Regions from separate parts of the Homo sapiens genome. Here region 1 is linked to region 2. A link means that fine-mapping ties the variant in region 2 to the expression of a gene that starts in the linked region. Tissue or cell type: blood mononuclear cells. Region 2 holds a variant in brackets; the other region holds the start of a gene. All regions are shown on one strand. Distances are between the middles of the regions.

Evidence for each region. PIP is the estimated chance that this variant, and not a neighbour inherited with it, causes the effect.
Region 1: AKR1C8 starts here. The variant in region 2 is fine-mapped to the expression of AKR1C8 in blood mononuclear cells (TOPMed, PIP 0.96).

Annotation. Positions count from the first base shown.
Region 1 is chr10:5,182,433-5,187,589 of GRCh38, reverse strand. AKR1C8 (aldo-keto reductase family 1 member C8) reads left to right here and starts at 2,440. Exons shown (of 9, transcript NM_001395972.1): 1 at 2,440-2,578. The coding sequence starts at 2,486.
Region 2 is chr10:5,113,766-5,118,922 of GRCh38, reverse strand. It overlaps a transcript of AKR1C8 not described here. Among named protein-coding and RNA genes, the nearest start is that of AKR1C3, 22 kb to the right of the region's middle. The variant C/T (reference allele first, on the strand shown) is at 2,604.

The DNA of each region.
Region 1 (5,157 bases), 69 kb before region 2:
CAATTGTTTAGAATAAAGACACAAGTACTAGTCACAGTTGATGAGAGGGCATTATACACATTATACAGGGCCATAAATACCAGGAGGCAGGGATCACAGGGGAACAATTTGCCATCTGCCCACCTCTTATCCAATAAACCATGAGCTCCCTGAGAGCAACTCATATCCTTGGTAGCTTTTGAAAACCTGAGGAAGTAAAAATAGTGCCAGGAAACCATGGACGAACACCTTTCCAGTTAGGGAAGATGGATTCTGAAAAGTGCTTGCTACAAAGCATGACGTCAAATCTGTAAATGTTTTAGGATAATGCTTAAGGCAAGTTTAAGGGAGCATGAAGCCCTGCTTTGGATTTACTAAGAATAAAATTGGCACACTCTCTTTCACTAACAAATTTCCTAGACTGCTAAATTAGGGAAGTGACAGAGAAATGTCTCTTACTTGGGTAAACCATTTAGTGCAAAATACAGGTTAATATTGCAAACATGTTAGACAAATTTTTAATCTAGTGAATGATGAGCTTCAGGCTATTACCATTAATAGACATGCTTTTTTTGTGACTTGACACAGAACTTAACCCCATCTCTGTAGGGTTCTACAGTTTTACCAGTGTAATATAAATAGTATACTTGCCAGATTTATAACTGATACAATGTTGTGATAATTATAAACTACAGGGAATCAGAATCAGGCAGAATTCGGACCTTGAGCAGCCAGAGCTATGGGTTCAAAATAAGATAAATGACAACGTCATGTTTCAGGATTGCCTCTAAGATACCAATGGCACAAATACATGTTGGAGAAAGCACCGCATAATAAAAACACCAAAGAAAATACCACTTAAGCATCTTATCTAGCAGAAGCTCCTTATTAGTGGAGAGTGTAATTTCAATGATGTGATTTTTTTTGACCTGCTTCATAGAAGCTAAGAGAATAAGAGGCACACAGAGAAGGCTGGTCAACCTCACCCAGGGAGGTTATAGAAGAAGTCATCTTCTCTTTTTATAGTATTTCATAATGTGATAATTAAATCTATTACTTAAAATTTGAAAAAAATAAAAAAAAAGATGAAGAGGTGTTTTTAGCAATAACTGGTTACCCTGCTGATTATTTCAAAGTCTGTTATGTTATGTTATTTTATTTTATTTTTTTGAGAAGGAGTCTTGCTCTGTCACCCAGGCTGGAGTGCAGTGGTGCAATCTTGGCTCACTGCAAGCTCCGCCTCCCGGGTTCATGCCATTCTCCTGCCTCAGCCTCTTGAGTAGCTGCGATTACAGGTGCCCACCACCACGCCCGGCTAATTTTTTGTATTTTTAGTGGAGACAGGGTTTCACCGTGTTAGCCAGGATGGTCTCGACCTCCTGACCTCATGATCCGCCCACCTCAGCCTCCCAAAGTGCTGGGATTACAGGCATGAGGCACTGCACCCTGCCCAAAGTCAGTTATTTCGAACCATTTAAGGTATTAACCTTGGTCCAGACCTGTTGTCCTCACCTACAGAGGATGAAAGTGTCCAAAGTGAATTATGCAGAAGGCCATTTAGGCTGAGCCTCTTGGCATCTGAATTGGAAGCCATTTTTAATTTTCATTTTTCTCATGGTTGCTGTGTGTGTGTTTATGTTTGCAAAAGCAATTTAGGCCCTGGAATTCCAAGCTGTTCTGTTAAGACCCAGGCTGCTTTGCTATCTCCTATCTTTGTTCAAAACAAACAAACAAAAAACAACAATAAAAAGAAGGAGTCATAAAGGATGTTAGACTGTAGGAGGTGCTTTTAGGATAAGTAAAAGATAAGAAACCCGCTGGAGACCAGGAGGGAGTTAAGCAGGCTGTTCTAAAAAGAGACAATGGCTGGAACAAAGGCAAGAGCATAGAAATGTATCCATGATCTCAGACAAGTTTTTTCTGCAAAACATTCAAGGAAACAAGTCAGAGAAAATGGAGTGTGGCTTGACACAGGAGGGAAATATACTGGGAATAGGGGTGGGTGTTCTTAAGAAATTTCATTACATGCATGGCTGGCACTAGGCCTCAAGCGTTATTCAAGGAATTCTAATAAGCTGTTTTAAAGGGATTAACAATCAAATATAAGTGAGAAAGTTAACTTCAGTTCTGTAGTAGAATTAGTGTTTTGAAATGACCACCCTAATAATAACTTTGCCTCTTGTAAAGGAAGTCTAGTGTACTTATCAAGGACAAATTGGTGTGGTTCATTTTTCAACTAAGGAATCAAGTGTGAACAACACGGAGGAGAAAATCAAAGTCCTCTGGCATTCACAGCATTTCTGAGTGAGTTTTCTGTAAAATACTCCCACAGAGACATAAGAATCAGAGAAAAGGCACTGGACTGATTCCAGTTTCATTTTGAAATCATTGGCAGCTGTCATCTCCATCCCGCCCATCCTGCATTTGGTGCAAATAAAGAACGCAGGAGCCTTGTCTCCTACTGGGCTGTCAGTGAGGAAAAGGAGGAAAGACAGGTTAGCTGGGGATGATGACGGATCTGAAGCAAAGCCATTCAGTGAGGCTGAATGATGGACCCTTCATGCCAGTGCTGGGATTTGGCACTTATGCTCCTGATCATGTAAGTGGACCCCAGGAGGCTGAAGTTTCTTAGGTCAGCTGTACTTGCAGGGCAGTCATCAGGCAAGAGCCCTGCACTTGGGTAGACAGTGGATGCTTGGAAGGGCTCATCTGGGATTTCATTTAACTGTCTCTAACTTGCTCCTCTCAAGGTCACAGAGATCTTTTTTGCTTTAAGTGGCATGGCAAGTTATTGATTGTGGGGATTCTGAGATTGATAATTTTGTGGGTATATTATCTTTATTTCTATTAAAAGTATCAATGTTACCTAATATATCAAATGCTTTCCATGTATTTTAGGTGTTTTACATGCATTATCTTATTTAATTCCTTAACAACTGGCCTAGGTAAGTACTCATTAAAATTTGTTACGTTTTAAAAATGCAAGCTCAGACTGTTCTCATCTTTTGCTCTGGTCAGAGCCACTCTACTCTTGGTTAGAAATGTGAAGGGCCAAGGACCCAGGAGGAATCAAAAGCCAAAATGAATACTTAGTGGCAGCTTTGCTGTGAGGTTATTGGGGCTGGAAGTATTTGCCAGAGAGTTTCAACCATCCAAACTTTTTGCTATATAAGAAGCCACTGCGATTCTGTTACAGTCTCATCAATGTATTAAAAATATAGTAGTCTTTCATTTTGAGGGATTATCTGAAGTTTTTTGTCTTATGACTGAGAAAATTAAGGACTGTGGACACAAAGGGTAAGGTTGGAGTGAAAGTTTAATAAGTGAAAGAAGGAAGATTTTCTCGAGTAGAGAGGGGGCCTGGATGGATTGTTAACTATGAGGTCAGGTCTAGGGTTTTGATGGACTGGGAAAGAAAAGAATTTGTTGACTGGTCTTGGAGAAAGTGTAACTCAGCTTGTCCTGGGACCTTGGTCTGGGACCAATCAGGAGTTGAAGTGATAGCTTGGCCTGGGACCTTGGCCCAGGAGCAGTCAGATGCTGAATGATAATTCATAAAGGCTCATCTCACGGTCCACATGTCCACAAAAGGAAAGGAAAGTGCCCACCAGAGCCCACTGGAGCCCACCATATACATGCCCACAAAAGAAAAAGAGACTTTCCTAGAAGTCTGTTGGTTACACAAAAGACAAATGTGTTTCTCTGTTGGTTCTTGTTCTCATATGAGTGCAGTTGTTGCCATGTCTTAGGCATAAAGGACAAAGGCATTTTGATGTTGGGCCTTGTTTTTTTATCTGAGTGAGCTGGAGGTTTGTGTAAGTTTCCTTATCTGTGTGTGTAGTCTGATTTTTTTCAAGCTGTTTCTCTGTTTAAAGGAGTTTTACCAAGAACTCACTCTAACTGTTTAAGTTTTTTCTCTCATTTTTACCCTCAGGAGTGGAGTCCCTAATTGTCAGGGAGATTGGGTGTTGACTTTTCTGGCTATTTTTTTGTCGGATGGTGGTGTCATGTGGGGAACAGTAGTTAGAGTTCTTCCTGGGGTTGGTTTAATGATCTTTGGAAGAAAGATATGTTTATGTGTGGTGTTATTAGTATTACCATTTAGAGTTTGATAGTTTTTATGTGAGAAGAAATAATTTGGGCTATTAGAGTACATGTATTAAAATGAAATAAGGGGGGATAAGGATAGTTTAAAAATTCTGAGGTTGTTGATACGTCCTGATAATTGGTAGTTATAGTTATGTCTGTTACGATTTCGGTGTATGGAGCTTGGTTTTGCTTAGTTTTTTTGGTCTTCTTTTCTCAAATAAAGCAACCTCTGGATTATGGGTATTCTATATATTCCTATGACCTGGTAGGATTTGTAGGATAATTGTTCAGAACTAGAATATTGTTCTAAATTTTATATTATTTATCTTTTACTGTTTTTATTTTTTGTTGTAGTCAGAGATTGTTGGTTAGTTCATAAGAATAAGTAGGGTTAGTCTAAAATGTAGGTAAACATTTAAAAATAATTAGTGAGACTAGAATTTAATAACAAATGTATGGCAAGTTTGACACACTATTTTTCTCTCTAGTTCTTATTTTTGTCAAAAACAAGTCATGATAGGATAGTACTGAGTTGTTTGTAAAATAAATTTTAGTTTCATATTTGGTCTGATTATCTGTATAAAGAATAGTAAGAATAATTTTTTTTTTTTTTGAGACAGAGTCTGCTCTCCTGCCCAGGCTGGAGTGCAATGGCATGATCTCGGCTCACTACAACCTCCGCCTCCTGGGTTCAAGCAGTTCTCCTACCTCAGCCTCTTGAGTAGCTGGGACTACAGGTGCATGCTGCCACACCCAGCTTATTTTTTGTATTTTCGTAGAGACAGGGTTTCACTATGTTGCCCAGGCTGGTCTCGAACTCCTGAGCTCAGGCAATCTGCCTGCCTCGGCCTCCCAAAGTGCTAGGATTACAGGCATAAGCCACCACACCTGGCCTTACAATAATTATTTTATATAGGGTTTTTAAATTGGTTTTGATGGAATTCTATTCCATAAGTAACCTCAGATAATAATACCTCAGTTTAAAGTTGAGTCTAGTCATGGGTTTGTACTCTCAAATATTTATGAGTTGGGTCAATTTTTCTCTTTTTGAGGTCCCAAGAATATAGGGTTCTTGAGCCTGTTAGAAAG
Region 2 (5,157 bases):
GAACAGTGTTGGCATATAGAGATAGTATTTTTCTTCAAGGGAATGGAAGGCATGTTTACTGTCCAGTAATAGAAAGAAAACAAAATATCTCCCTCCAGTCAAATGGCAGCTATAGGGGCCAAGGGAAAACTTCCCCTTTGCTCTCTGATGTTTCACTAAAAATCAATTGATGATTGGCAGATTAATAAGAGAACCAACATACAACTCTATTAATGCCAGGACTCAGCAAACAATGCCCCAAATAAAGGCTTCAGAAGCAAAAGTTTTTCTATGAGCTTCTCTCGCCCTCTTATATGTCAATCCTCTTTTCCTCTAAACTAGTTACAGAAACTAGAATCTTTCTTCCCCAAGGTAGGTCATAGGAACCAGAATCCATTTTTCCCAAAGCCAGCCATAAAAACTAAAGATACTACTCTAACTTTCCCTCCACCTTTCTGTGTAAATTATGGCCATAACAATAATTATCTGACCTATCTTGTTTGACTCTAGGTCATAAGACTCCCATTTCACAGAAGGCCCTGCCCCACAGCCAGAAGGAAGGAATGCTACTTAGGCCAAGAAGAATCTAGACACATAGGTTGTACAAGACATAAAGTCAACAGAAATTACCTTGAAACTTTAAGTTTAATGTCTGCTTTGCTGGAATTCTGATTTCCATGAGTCCTGTTTCCCCTGTCCCTACCCCTGCCTTTTTTTGGTTAACTTCCCTTTTGAAAAAGGAATGTTTACCCACAATGGATAACATGGTTGTACTTTGGAAGTAAATAACTTATTTTTGACTTCATAGGCTCATAACTGGCAGGAAGTTGCCTTGAGTCTGATATGAATTTTTATACTTTGGAATTTTAAGTTGGTGCTAGACCAAGTCACAACTTTTGGGAACTATTGGGATGAAATGGCTACATTTTGCGTGTAAGAAGAACATGAGGTTATGGATCAGGGGCAGAATGCTATGGTTGGCATATTTGACCCTCCTAACCATATGCTGAATTTTCGATGTAGGAGGTGAGGCCTAGTGAAGTCATTATGGTCATGGGGGCAGATCTCTCATGAATGGCTTGGTGCTCTCCCTGCAGTAACAAGTGAATTCTGGCTTTATTACTTTTTTCATAGCTGCTTGTTAAAAAGAGCCTGGCACCTTACTTTCCTCTCTTGCTTTCCTCTCTCACTCTGTGAACTCGGAACATGCTGGTTCTCCTTTCCTTTCTGCCATGAGTGGAAGCAGCCTGAAGACCTCACCAAAGGCCTAAGAGATGCCAATGCTATGCTTCTTGTACAGCCACCAGACTGTGAGCCAACAAACCTCTTCTTTATAAATTCTCAGCTTCAGGTATTCCTTTATAGCAACACAATGGACTAAGACAGTTTCTAATTTCTCTACACACCTAGAACCAGCATGTCCTGAGTGGGTGATCTTAATACCTGATAATCACAGACATACCATTTGTGACAAAGTTTTCCAAATTGGAGACAATCTGGAGGGTATCAATCCTACCCCAGGTCCTGGCTTGCTTCAGAAATCCTCGATTGAGGGTGGATATGTTTCTTCCCATATCTCCATGAACCAGTATCTCCTATAGTTGAAGACCACCCTGGAGCCAAATGTACAAATAGGTCTTGTTATCTGAGGGCAGCTCAAGTCCGCTACCTCATTGTTTGCTCCTGAATCCTCATTTTGGCTCAGGAAACTAACATTTAAAAGTGGTTAAGCGGTGAATTAAATGTGGCTATTTTGTAGACTCATGTTTAGGAAGCACCTTTTAACCCTTTTCCTGTTTAAAAAAAAAAAAAAGCTCACTGCCAGTGCTCATTTAATTTTACATAAACACACTTTTTGAGGCTGAAGAAAATCTGACTTATTTTCAATGTAAAAATGTAAAAACTGTTCTTAGAGTTATTTCTAAAGAGAACTAACATCAGAATTCTACGAATCATCACAATCATCTATTTTGGAGAGATTGGATTCATCAAATGAATCTTCGGCCAACAAGTGTGGGAAAATGATGTTAACATCACACATACGAATGCTACGCTTTCCAGGATTTAACATTTCCAGTGATCAAGAATTACTGTATTTTGTAAGTCATTCACAGATGGTTCTGCATGATACGCAGGGGCCACCCAAAAGCAGACAGCTGCAGCACTACAGCCCCTTTGATGTCCTACATCCCTGAAGGACAGCAATGAAGGGAAATCTTCCCAGTGGGCAGAACTTCAAGCAGTGCACCTGGTTGTGCACTTTGCATGGAAGGAGAAATGACCAGATGTGTGATTATATAGTGATTCATGGCCTGTAGCCAATATTTTGGCTGGGTGGTCAGGGACTTGGAAGAAGCATGATTAGAAAGTTGGTGACAGTGCTTTGCAGGGATGGGGCAAAGTTCTCCAGAAGGCTGTGTATGCCCTGAATCAGCATCCAATGTATTAGTACTCTTTCTCTCATAGCCAGGATTCACGGTCCAGGAATCAAGGGGTGGAAGTGGAAGTGGCACCACTCAGCATAACTCCTAGTGATCCACTAACAAAATTTTTGCTTCCTATTCCCGTGACTTCACCTTCTGCTGGCCTAGAGATCTTAGTTCTAGAGGGAAGAACGCTGCCAC[C/T]GGGAGACACAATGACAATTCCATTAAACTGAAAGACAGTCATCTGGACACTTTGGGTTCCTCCTACCTTTAAGTCAACAGGGTAAGAAGGGAGGTACAGTGTTGGCTGGGGTGATTGACCCGGGCTATCAAGATGAAATCAGTCTACTACTTCACAACAGAGGTAAGGAAGAGTATGCATTAGGGCGTCGCTTAGTATTACCATGCTGTGTGATTAAGGTCAATGGGAAACTACAACAGCCCAATCCAGCAGGACTACAAGTGACCCAGATCCTTCAAAAATGAAGGTTTGGGTCACTCCACCAGGAAAAAAACATGACCTGCTGAGGTGCTTGTATATCAGGTATACATAGGTATGCATACTGGGTAGTAGAAGAAGGTAGTCATCAATACTGGCTATGACCATGTGACCAACTGCAGAAAAGAGGACGGTAATTGTCATGAGTATTTCCTCCTTTTGTTAAAACCATATTTGTGCATGTATATACTTGTACTAAAAAAAATCTTCATTTTATTTTCTTTATCATGTGACATAAGATTTATTGACTTCACATCAGCATTTAAGTATTGTTTACTTTATGTAATAGTATTTGGGGTGAGGATTGGTGCGTTTCCAGTTGTAGGAAGGATAGTTGTATTAGGCATAATTATGACCTTATTATTGTATTTATTTGAATACTATGTATGATCTCAGGAGATGTGTATGGGTTCAAGTTAACAAAGGGTAGACTTGGGATGGTTAATTCTGAGTGTCAACTTCACTGGATTGAAGAATACAATGTTGATCCTGGGTGTGTTTCTGAGGGTGTGGCCAAAAGAGATTAACATTTGAGTCAGTGGGCTAGAAAAGGCAGACCCACCCTTAATCTGGGTGGGCAGAATCTAATCAGCTGTCAGCATGGCTAGAATATAAGCAGGCAGAAAAACATGAAAGGAGAGACTGGCCTAGCCTCACAGTCTATATCTTTCTCCTGTGCTAGATGCTTCCTTCCCTTGAACATCATACTCCAAATTCTTCAGTTTTGGAACTCGGGCTGGCTCTCTTTGCTCCTCAGCCTGCAGATGGCCTGTTGTGGGACCTTGTGATCACGTGAGTTCATACTTAGTAAACTCCCCTTTATATATATTTAAATATATATATATATATTCCACTAGTTCTGTCCCTCTGGAGAACGCTAATACACTATTCTGGATGCCACTAAGAACATTCGTGACTCATGAAAGGAGGGCAAAATATACACTTGAACAGGAGTTTGGAAGATGTTGATTCCAGCCCTCATAGATGGATGACTTTGAGGAATTCAGGACTTCAGTGGGGAAAGTAATTGCAGATTTGGTGAAAATAGCAAGAGAACTAGAATTAGATTGAAAACTGACTATTACTGAGTGGTTGCAGTCTCATATAATTTTCACAAATGAGAAGTTGCTCTTTATGGATGAACAAAGAAAGTGGTTTGGTGAAATGGATTTCACTTCTGATGAAGATGCTATGAAGAATGTTGAAATGAAAACAAAGGATTTAGAATATGACATAAAGATCGCTGATAAGATCATGACAAGGTTTGAGAGAATTATCTATATACTATGATGTTCGCACAATGAAAAAGTTACCTAACAAAGCCCTTCTCAAGAAGATAGCCAGGCATTACATGACACATGACTGTCATTAGTGACGGGAAAAGAGTTACTTTTGCCATTTTTAATGTTTTTCTCCATGTCTATAGCTTTTGTCCTTCATATCCGTCATTACTACTATTTTGTGAGATTGTGTAATTTTTTAAATGACATTTGGATTCCCTTCTCATTTCCTCTTGAGTGTATTCTACAGTTATTATCTTTGTAGTTGCTGTCTGGATGACATACAACTTCATAGAGTTATAACAATTTACATTGAATCAACATCAATTTAACTTCCATTTCATATAAAAACTAATTTTCCCAGGTTTTTTTCCCATTTCATATTATTTTTGTCACTCATTAGGACATTATATATTGTGTACATATTAACAAATAATTATACTTATTTCTGTGTTTTAAATTCTGAAGAAAAATAGAATACAAACCAAAAATTCAAAAATACATGTTTTCATATTTTGCCATATATTTATTTACATAGACTAGAAGTGTTTATAGCTCTATATGGCTTTGAGTTACTGTCTACTTCCTTCTATTCAACTGAAGTATTACCTCCAGCATTTCTTTTTTTTTAATTATTTATTATTATTATTTATTATTATTATACTTTAAGTTTTAGGGTACATGTGCACAATGTGCAGGTTAGTTACATATGTATACATGTGCCATGCTGGTGTGCTGCACCCACTAACTCGTCATCTAGCATTAGGTATATCTCCCAGTGCTATCCCTCCCCGCTCCCCCCACCCCACAACAGTCCCCAGAGTGTGATGCTCCCCTTCCTGTGTCCCTGTGTTCTCATTGTTCAATTCCCACCTATAAGTGAGAATATGCGATGTTTGGTTTTTTGTTCTTGCAATAGTTTACTGAGAGTGATGATTTCCAATTTCATCCATGTCCCTACAAAGGACATGAACTC